3 linked regions of the Homo sapiens genome follow. The protein of the gene in region 1 purifies or fractionates together with the protein of each later gene. This does not show direct contact. Each region holds a gene or a part of one and is shown in the gene's direction. Other genes may lie near its edges.

Region 1 (3,214 bases):
CCTCCCATCAGAGCCAACAACACCAGCAACAACTGTGAAGTCCACAGTTCCACTCCTCAACCTGACCTGCAGTTGGTCTTGGCTAAGCACAAGACTGAACAGAGAGCCTAAGTAGGGGTCTGGGGGCATGTGAAAACTCAGAGGGGGTCTCTGTGAAAATAGACTTCCCGAGAGGGCAACACCATTATTTTTTAGCCTGCCTCTGGCTTGATGACCCATTTCCCAGACTACAAGGAAGCAGCTGGGGGGAAAAAAACCTACAATTGTGTGATTCTCAAACCACAGTGTGCATAAAAATTGCCTGGAATGATTCTGAAAATGCATATTTCCAGGCCTCAATCCCAGAGACTCTAGATCTGGGTCACTTTAACACAAATGTCCTGGACCAATGCTTCTAACACTTTAATGTGTGAAACAATATCCTTGATGATTTTGTTAAAATGCAGATTCTAATTCCATAGGTCTGGGGTAGGGCCTGAGATGTTACTTTTCTCACATTCTCCCCAGTCACACTGGTGATGCTGATCCTGGGAACACAACTTTCATTAAGTCTAACCAATAGACCAGCCCCAGAGTCCACCAGAGACTGAACTGGAAATAATTGCTTCATCTACTTTTGAGAAATCCATTTGTACCCCCACATTATTTTAGAAATGTTCAGAGTTACTCTGAGCTCCAGCCAAGAAGAATAGCAAATGTAAGAAAGCCGGGGAGAAGTTCCTAGCAGATACTGAGCCCCCATCAAGTTTCAAGCACATACATAAACATCACAGCCACCCTGTTATGTAGATGTCCTATGTGCAGGGTGATATCCAAGATATTTAACAACTAGAATGGAATGAACACTGACCCCCTTGGGGGTGAGTTCTCACTGTTAATTCCCTTGAGAGCTGGTTGTAAAACAGCCTGGCACCTTCCCCACCTCCAACCTTGATTCCTCTCCCACCATGGGATCTCTGCACACCCAGCTTCCCTTCACATTCCACTGTGAGTGGAAGCAGCCTGAAACCCTCACCAGATGCAGATGCCCAGCTGAACTTTCCAGCTGCCAGAATAATGAGCCAAATAAGCCTATACTGACATTAACCTTTTCATTTCTGATATTGATAATTTGAAAAGCAGTCTTAATAAGCATTTATCTACTTTATTGATTTTTTTGAAAGAGAGCGCTTTGGGGGGTTTTCTTACTGTATGTCTCTATTGCATGTTCTGTATTTTACATTTTTCTATTATTTCTTCTCTGAGGTATAGTATTGAATGTAGAAAAATCCTCAAATGTTCGGTATTAAGCAATACACTTCTAATTCATGGTTCAGAGAAGAAAATATCTCGAATAAAAATAAAATAAAAATATGACTTATCAAAATTTGTAGGATCTAAAGCAGTATTCCAGGAATGCAAGGTTGGTTTAACATTCAATAATTGGTCAGTGTAATTAATCACATTAATAGAATAAAAAGAGAAAAAATATAATCATTTCAGTGGATGTAATTGTTCAGAGCTTCTTAAAAGAAGCAACTCACTATTTTACTAGATGATTTGTTTCTTCTGAATTCCTCTTTAAGGCTACAGGTGGTGCTTCTTACTTTGAACTGATCACTTTCTAGGTCCCCACCCTTACTTCTTGTTTTTCATACCCTTGTAGAGTTTTCTCCATATAGGAAACCCATGCTTGACATTTGCTCACCAGAGTTACAGAGCTCTCAGGGAGGAGACTCAGAGTTCTAACCCTCTTGCCCTCCTTTTTTCCCAGGACGACAACATCATGAGGTCTCTCCAGCTGTTTCAAAATGTCATGTAACTGGTGACACTCAGCCATTCAGCTCTCAGAGACATTGTACTAAACAACCACCTTAACACCCTGATCTGCCCTTGTTCTGATTTTACACACCAACTCTTGGGACAGAAACACCTTTTACACTTTGGAAGAATTCTCTGCTGAAGACTTTCTATGGAACCCAGCATCATGTGGCTCAGTCTCTGATTGCCAACTCTTCCTCTTTCTTCTTCTTGAGAGAGACAAGATGAAATTTGAGTTTGTTTTGGAAGCATGCTCATCTCCTCACACTGCTGCCCTATGGAAGGTCCCTCTGCTTAAGCTTAAACAGTAGTGCACAAAATATGCTGCTTACGTGCCCCCAGCCCACTGCCTCCAAGTCAGGCAGACCTTGGTGAATCTGGAAGCAAGAGGACCTGAGCCAGATGCACACCATCTCTGATGGCCTCCCAAACCAATGTGCCTGTTTCTCTTCCTTTGGTGGGAAGAATGAGAGTTATCCAGAACAATTAGGATCTGTCATGACCAGATTGGGAGAGCCAGCACCTAACATATGTGGGATAGGACTGAATTATTAAGCATGATATTGTCTGATGACCCAAACTGCCCATGTCATTTGTTTCCAGAAACGAGGACCAATAATTCTCTCACACTGGCATTTGTGCTGGTAGTACAAGTCCTTTAATATGTCCAGGAAGGGAGCCATTGCCCAGTGGTCCATATCTCCACCACATCCCCTGCTTGAGCCCAGCGCTGCATGTCCCTCCCAAGAAGTCCAGAATGCCTGCAAATTGCTGTAATTTTATACCATGTTCTAACCAATAAACAGAACTATTTCTTACACTCTCAATCACTTCTTCATGACTCCGTTAGGTAAGAGAGGTAAGCTGTGAAAAGGGAAGGCTAGTCCATTCATTTGACACCCAATTATTAGTGCAGTTGTCCCTCCATATGTGTGAAGGATCAGTCCCAGGACTCTCCATACCAAAATCTGCAGATACTCAAGTCCCACAGCTAGCCCTGAGGGACTCGTGTTTTCAGAAAATTTGGCCTCCATATATGCAGGTTTCACATCCTATAAATACTGCATTTTCTATCACTTTTGGTTGAAAACAATCTGCATGTAAGTGGACCCAATAAGTTTAAACTCATGTTGTTGGAGGGTCAACTGTACTTACGTTGTGCCAGGCCTGTGCCAGGCAATGACTTCATCCTCCCCAGCCCCCAAGCCTTCCCCAGCAAACATCCAATCCAAATGCAAATACTGTGACCAAATGCAAATGCAACTTCGAGACAAGACCCTTCACAACACTTTGCTTCCAACAAGATTGCCACTTCTAAGACCCTCTGATATGGAAAGCCTGGAGCCCCTGTGGTGTGAGTGGGAGTGCAGAGATAAAGAGGATGACGGGGCCTCCTGCTGAGAGATTTTAGGCT
Region 2 (3,657 bases), on another chromosome or scaffold:
ATACCACATTGTCTTGATTACTGTAGCTTTATAGAGAATCTTGAAGTTGAGTAGTTTCAGTCCTCTGACTTTATTCTTTTCCTTCAATATTGTATTGGATATTTTGAGTCTTCGCCCTCTCCATATGAACTTTAGGATTCATTTGTCTGTATCTACAAAATAACTTGCTGGGATTTTGATTGGGATTGCATTGAATCTATAGATTAAGGTTGGGAAAAACTGACATCTTGACAATATTGAGTATTCCTGTCCATGAACATGGAATATCTCTCCATTTATTTAGTTCTTTGATTTCTTTCATCAGAATATTCTAGTTTTCCTCATATAGACCTCGTGTATATTATATTATATTTATACCTAAGTATGCCAATCTTTTGGATGCTAATGTACATAGTATTGTGTTTTCAATTCCAAATTCCATTTGTTCATTGTTAGTATAAAGGAAGGTGAGTCAATATCTTGCAATATCCTGCAACCATGCTATAATTGCTTGGTTCCAGGAGGGTTTTTTGTTGTTGTTGATTCTTTCAGATTTTCTATCTAGACAATTATGTCACTTGCAAACAAAGAAAGTTTTATTTCTTTCTTCTCAATCTGTATACCTTTTGTTTCCTTTTCATGTCTTACTGCATTAGCTAGGTCTTCAAGTATGATACTGAAAAGGAGTGGTGATAGGGGCATCTTTGCCTTGTTCTTGATCTTAGCAGGAAAGCTTCTAGTTTGTCATCCATAAGTATGATGTTATATGTAGATTTTTTTATAGATATTCTTGATCAAGTTAAGAAAGTTTCCCCTCTACTCCCAGCTTGCTGAGAGTTTTTAATCATGAATGGGTGTTGGATGTTACTAGATGTTTTTTTCTGTATCTGTTGATATGATCATGTGATTATTCTTGTTTAGATTGTTGAAGTCTCTAACTGTGATAGTGGATTCTGTTTCTCCTTGCAGTTTCATCAGTTTTTGCCTCACATATTGGTGCTCTATTGTGAAGCATATACACATTAAAGGTTCTTATGTTTTTTTGAGGCATTGACCCCTTTGTCATTGTGTGATGCTCCTCTTTATCCCTGATAACTTTCCTTGGTCTGAAGTGTTCTCTGTCTGAATTTAATACAGCTATTCTGGGTTGCTTTTGGTTAGTGTTAACATGATGTACTTTCTTCATCCCTTCACTTTTAATCTATATATGTCTTTATATTTAAAGTGGGTTTCTTGTACACAACATAGAGTTGGGTCTTGTTTTTTGAATAATTCTGGCAATGTCTCTCTTTCAGTTGGTATATTTAGACCATTTATGTTTAAAGTGATTATTGATATATTGGATTAATATCTACCGTATTTGTTACTGTTTTCTATTCTTTGCCCTTATTCTTTGTTTCTATTTTTGCATTCTACTCTCTTTTTGTCTTTTGTAGTTTTAAACTGAGTATTTTATATGATTCCATTTTCTCTCCTTTCTTAGCATATCAGTTATACTTCTTTTTTTTACTTTTTGTAGTGGTTACCCTTGAGTTTGCAATATACATTTGAAAACTATGGAATGTTTTATGAATTTGTGTATCATCATTGCTCAAGGGGCATGCTAGTAGTCTTCTCTGTATCATTCTAATTTTAGTATATGTGCTGCTGAAGTAAGCACTTAATGTGCTGTAATTTTCTTCTAAAGGATTTCTGGCAGTTCTTCTCCTTTAGTTGGATATAATCAATATCAGCAGCAGACACTGATGTGAGGTGAATATGAACTCATGCCCCTAAGTGCTGAGTGTCAGCTTGAGTGCTTCAGGACTGGAGAAAATCCTCACAGTTCTCATCACTGACTGGTATCTGCTGCACCCTTGCTTTTGAGTCAGGTTCATGCCCACAGGCTGCTTCCCTAGGCCCCCGCAGTTTTATCACTGTAAGTTTTAAGGATTTTTCATATTCCCAGAAATTGCTTCTCTTCCATCTTGAGAATTGGCATTTCCTCTATAGGGCAGGGGGAACATGTAAACAAGCCCTCTTGTAGGAGAAGGCGGCTTAGTCACATTTCTTAGGCTAACATTGCTCTTCCTCCTTTTTGTGTTTTTAAACAGATGTGATGTTTACTGGGACAGCAGATGGCCGGGTCGTAAAACTTGAAAATGGTGAAATAGAGACCATTGCCCGGTTTGGTTCGGGCCCTTGCAGTAAGTTGGTGATAATCCCTCGATGTGTCTCTTCCAGTCTTTCAGAAAGATGTTGGATCGTTGTGTGGAACTGCTTTTCCCTAGAATGCCTGTGGGAGAAAAAGAACCTCTGACCATCTAGTAGATGGAACATGACGTCACTACGAGCTCTTCATTTGCCGGGTGGTCCTTGGGCCTCACGGTGCCTGATGGTCACCTACAGTCCCCATTTTGCAGCTGGGTAGTGGCTGTGGCCCCTGCTTGGTACTGCATGGGCCTCGCCCCTCACCATTTTATTGGGGTCCCCGTTTACCTTTGCGGTACTTCAGAGGCTAATAGGTGTTATCACAGTGCTGCTGTGGAAAAGTAGGTGGCCTTGTCATTACTTGGATGTGTAAGTGTTATTCTGCCTTGGTCTCAGGAATTTCAGCCCTGTAAGTGAGAATACCCTTAAGTCATTCAAATTTTGGAAAACTAGAGTAGAAGACTCACTGTTTAAAACTGATAGTCTATAGACTTAATAGTTATCATTTTTTAATAGCTGGAATGTTTTTATTAAAGTGATGTATTTTCATAAACACAAACAACACAAAGGTACAAAGGAGAAAATAAAAATCACCTGAGTCTTTTCAGATGTAATTGTTATGAACATTTTAGTGGTTCACTTTTCAGACATCTTTTTGTTCATGGACATGCACACCCACACGTATGATGGAATTATACCCTACATCAGTTCTTTAACCTGCCTTTTTCCGTGCCATTTTGGCAGTAAGCACCCTGCAGTGAGCATCCCACAGTGAACACCCTGCAATAAGCATTTGCAGTGAGCACCCATGGTCAGCACCTACAATAGCACCTGGAGTGATCACCCATGGTGAGCACCCTACAGTAAGCACCTGCAGTGAGCACCCCACAGTGAACACCCTGCAGTAAGCACCTACAGTGAGCACCTATAGTGAACACCTGCAGTGGTACTTGCAATGAGCACCCTACAGTTAATGACCCACAAAAGCACCTGTAGTGAGCACCCTGCAATAAGCACCTGTAGTGAGCACCCCACAGTGAACACCCTGCAATAAGCACCTGTAGTGAGCACCTTCAGTGAGGACCCCACAGTGAACACCTTGCAATAAGCATCTGCAGTGAACACCCCACAGTGAACTCCCTGCAGTAAGCCCCTGCGGTGAGCACCCCACAGTGACCACCCTGCAATAACACCCTGCAATAAGCGCCTGCAGTGAGCACTCCACTTGAACACCCTGCAGTAAGCACCTGCAGTGAGTACCTCACAGTGAACACCCTGCAATAAGCACCTGCAGTGAGCACCCCACAGTGAACATCTTGCAATAAGCCCCTGTGGTGAGCACCCCACAGTGAACACCCTGCAATAACACCCTGCAATAAGCACCTGCAGTGAGCACTCCACTTGAACACCCTGCAGTAAGCACCTGCAGTGAGTACCTCACAGTGAACACCCTGCAATAAGCACCTGCAGTGAGCACCCCACAGTGAA
Region 3 (3,657 bases), on another chromosome or scaffold:
TTTGAGTGCCAATTATATACCAGGCATGGTACTAGTTGTTAAGGAAATACTCCTTGTCCTTAATCTCATGGATCTTGTAAAAACCACACAGCAATCAAACCTCGATAAATATATAAATAAAAATTGTGCTACTGCTTTCATAGTGAAAACCATAGGGGGCAAGAAAATGGAGGAATTTGGTCATAAAAGCCTTACTTGAAGAAATGACTATTAGCAGTAGCAAATCCACACAGGTCTGAAGCAACTCGATTCTTACCTCCTGTGGGAAAGAATTTATTGGAGGGGCATAAGGCAGAGTGAGAGACCGAGGCAAATTTTTGAGCAGGAGTGAGAGTATTAAAAAGCTTTAGAGCAGGAACGGAAGGAAGTACACTTTGAAGAAGGCCATGTGGGCTACTTGAGAAATCCAAGTACCTCGTCTGACCCTGGACTTGGGGTTTTATACATTGGCATGATTCCAGGGTTTGCGTTTCTTCTCCCGTGATTCTTCCCTTGGGGTGGGCTGTCTGCATGCGCAGTGGCCTGCCAGCAGCGGGGAGGGGCTGCCTGCAGTGTGTTTACTGAAGTTTTACTCATGCTCACTTGAGGCATTTTTCCCTTACAATTTGAGCCTTCCTAGAGGAAGGGCATATACTAGTTAAAAGCTGCCATTTTGCCTATTAGTGCACATGCTGGAGCCCACTTGCCCAACTCCTGAGATCTTAGTGGGAACCTGCTGATAACCAGCTTTAGGTGTTTTCTATCTAATGGGAGACTGCCTTTCCATGGTGTTGGCGCGACCAATTATTATTTCAGAGAGACAGTTTAACAACGGCCTGACCATCACCTGATGGCCGCCTGACATTCCTGGTGGTGGGGGGCCTTTCCTGCCCTGCTCATGTCTGCCTAGCTGCCTACTCTGACTTTTGAGGCGAAATCTGAACATTTCAAGAAAAGTAGTTAATCTGGAAGTGGGTGGCAGCATTCTTGAGAAGGAGCATTTGGGCAAAGGTCCTGAGGCAGGAGGTAGCATGAGTGAAATAGTGAGAAACTAGGAGATAAATATTGTTGGAACGTGGAGAATGACAAGTAGAATGATGCCACACAGGAAAGCATGGGTCTCGTAGTCCATGCTAAGGAGGAGATCTTAAGTGCGGTGAGAAGCCGTTGAAAGATTTTAAGTAGGGAAGAGTGGATTTGTGTTTTGAAAAGATCACTCTGGCTGCCTACAGAAAGTATGTATTTGTCTATAGAACAGGTAGCAGGAGTCCTGGTGGGGGTCATCATTATTCAGGTGGGACATAATCCTTGCTTAGATTGGCAGGGCGGTGGTAGAGATAGAAAAAAATAAATTGATTCAAGAGCTCCTAAAGATGCAAAGGCATCAGGATTTGGCTATTGGATATGGTAGTGAAGGTGTCAGGAGGCCTAGGATGATAGATTATTTGTTTCATTATGGAAAGTTCTCAAAGCAAAATGTATACCTTCTTGTATTGTATTTTATGATTATGGGAAGCTTTTTTTTTTTTAGTCTTTGCCCTCTGGATATTTTAAGGTCAGCATTTATTAAGATTATCTGCTTGGACTTGCAAAGCACAGAAAGTTCCTTTAATTAAATAAATTATGTCCCAGACTAACACCATTTATCCCAGGTTTTAGCCCTGAGTGACTGTCTACAGTTGACCCATAAGCCTCTGAAAATAAAGGTTTTTAAAGGAAATGTTGACAGATCCATTAAAACAGCAGTCCCCCACCTTTTTAGCACCAGGGACTGGTTTTGTCAAAGACAATTATTCCACAGACTGGGGGAGTTGGGTTGGGTGGGGGATGGTTTGGGGATGAAACTGTTCCGCCTCAGATCATTAGGTATTAGATTCTCATAAGGAGTGTGCAACCCGGATCCCTTGCATGCAGTTCACAATAGGGTTTATGCTCCATGACCCAGGGTTGGGGACCCCTGCATTAAAACATTCAGTACTGGTGAGAAGCTGTGTGTAAACTAATGACTCTCTGGATATGCAAATGCAACTTTAGTCAAGTCATTAATGCCACTTAGGTTCAGGGTGTATATAATAGGACTAATTCAGGAACTAGTAGGCCAAGAGGTTTTATGTGATAGGCAAGCTAACAGGTTTGAAAGGAATATAGCTTAAATGAGGATTAGTGGCTGAACTGATTACCCTGGCAGTCAAGTTCCACCTTACCAAAGCCATTTTATCTCAGTGATGATCAGTTGTAACCTGAAAAATTCTGCCCTTGAACATGAGATTGTACTTCAAATGGAAGCTCTGTTTATACTATTAGGGATGGAGCTATCACTTAGTGAAAGTGTAGTGTCTTAAGTGGTCACTGTTCTCTCAGTTTCCCAGGCTATACACCTTAGGATTGGTTTTTGTTTCCTTTGCTGTTTTCAGTGTCCCATCCCCCTTCTCCCCCCACACATAATAATGATTAAAAATATCACATCACCAAGTCTGAGAAGTCTGGGGTTTATAGACTTCCTGAAATTAATGCAGAACTTTTGCATACATCTACATTTTTTTCTAGGTTGATAATCAGAAGCTTTCATGTTTCCTAAAGTGTCCTCTAAACCAAACAAGGCTTCCAGCCACTGACCATGTGCCCTTTGAAGGCAGGGTTCATGTTTCCTGTTTGTTGAGTATTTCCTCCATCTTTCCTGGTGCTAATTTTATGGAAGGCACATATTAAATATTTTTCAAAGAAACTAAGGTACATCCATTTATGTCTCCCACATAGGTCTGAACATTTCGGAAATGTTTGGCGAATTCCTAAGAATTGTTGTATTTATCACTTCTGTGGAAAAGTTTTCCATCCAGTGGTCTATGTGAGGTCAGGCATCAGCCCTGTTACCACCTGCTTGCCCCTCCCCCATCCCCATCCTCCCCTCCCTAAGACCTCATGAAGAATACTGATAACACCTGAAGTGGGAGTTCCTGCTCTCACAATCTAGTTGGGGGTGGGGAGAGCTATTGCTTAATCCAGTAGCAATGTAAAGAAATAATACAAGAACTGTCACAAGGATATGTTTCATCAGTAGTCAAACCAGTAGGTGGAGAAGGCTTAAAATGGCCTTTGGGGAATGCACAGTTACTAGTAAAGAGAGAATGAAAACTTTTGAACAGCAGTCTATTTTGTGACTTAGGCTGGTTGCATGGGATGGGAGATAACGTGTGAGATACGATTTGGGTTCCTGTATAAACTGTTAGACAATAGTAAATTGGAGAAAGAGGAAGAGAGAAAATAATTCACGAATGAAAAGCAAAATTCTGAGCTTGAGCCATCTGTAAACAGAATATGTGGAAATTCTAACTTGAGTTATTAAAAAAGTTGGTCAGCAAGATTTGAGTAGCTATTGAATGAAGGAAAATGACTGTGATTATTCAGCTCCTAACTAGATAATTGTCTTTGTTCATATTTTGAATTTCGATTCTCATTCCTGAAGAATGAATGTACAATCTGAAAAGTAACTAAATTAAAGATTTCAGTAATAACAGCAACAATAATAGTTTACATATATTGAATCCTTACTTTGGGCCTAATACATATTCTACATGTATTTGGTTGTTTATTTGTAACAACCACCCTCTATTGCAAGTCCGATGGAATCCCAACTTTATAGATGAGACTGTTGTGGTATAGAGAGGTGAACTCTTTGTC

What was found.
Region 2: the proteins of KCNIP1 (region 1) and APMAP purify together in Homo sapiens (affinity purification with mass spectrometry; one large-scale study listed by BioGRID and IntAct). This does not show direct contact.
Region 3: the proteins of KCNIP1 (region 1) and GALNT7 purify together in Homo sapiens (affinity purification with mass spectrometry; one large-scale study listed by BioGRID and IntAct). This does not show direct contact.

What each region holds. Positions count from the first base shown.
Region 1 is NC_000005.10:170,734,006-170,737,219, forward strand, and holds the end of KCNIP1 (A-type potassium channel modulatory protein KCNIP1), read left to right. Parts: intron 1-1,753; coding exon 1,754-1,801; 3' UTR 1,802-2,627; downstream 2,628-3,214. UniProt on the Homo sapiens protein: Regulatory subunit of Kv4/D (Shal)-type voltage-gated rapidly inactivating A-type potassium channels. Regulates channel density, inactivation kinetics and rate of recovery from inactivation in a calcium-dependent and isoform-specific manner.
Region 2 is NC_000020.11:24,972,153-24,975,809, reverse strand, and holds part of APMAP (adipocyte plasma membrane-associated protein), read left to right. Parts: intron 1-2,072; coding exon 2,073-2,165; intron 2,166-3,657. UniProt on the Homo sapiens protein: Exhibits strong arylesterase activity with beta-naphthyl acetate and phenyl acetate. May play a role in adipocyte differentiation.
Region 3 is NC_000004.12:173,171,748-173,175,404, forward strand, and holds part of GALNT7 (N-acetylgalactosaminyltransferase 7), read left to right. Parts: intron 1-3,657. UniProt on the Homo sapiens protein: Glycopeptide transferase involved in O-linked oligosaccharide biosynthesis, which catalyzes the transfer of an N-acetyl-D-galactosamine residue to an already glycosylated peptide.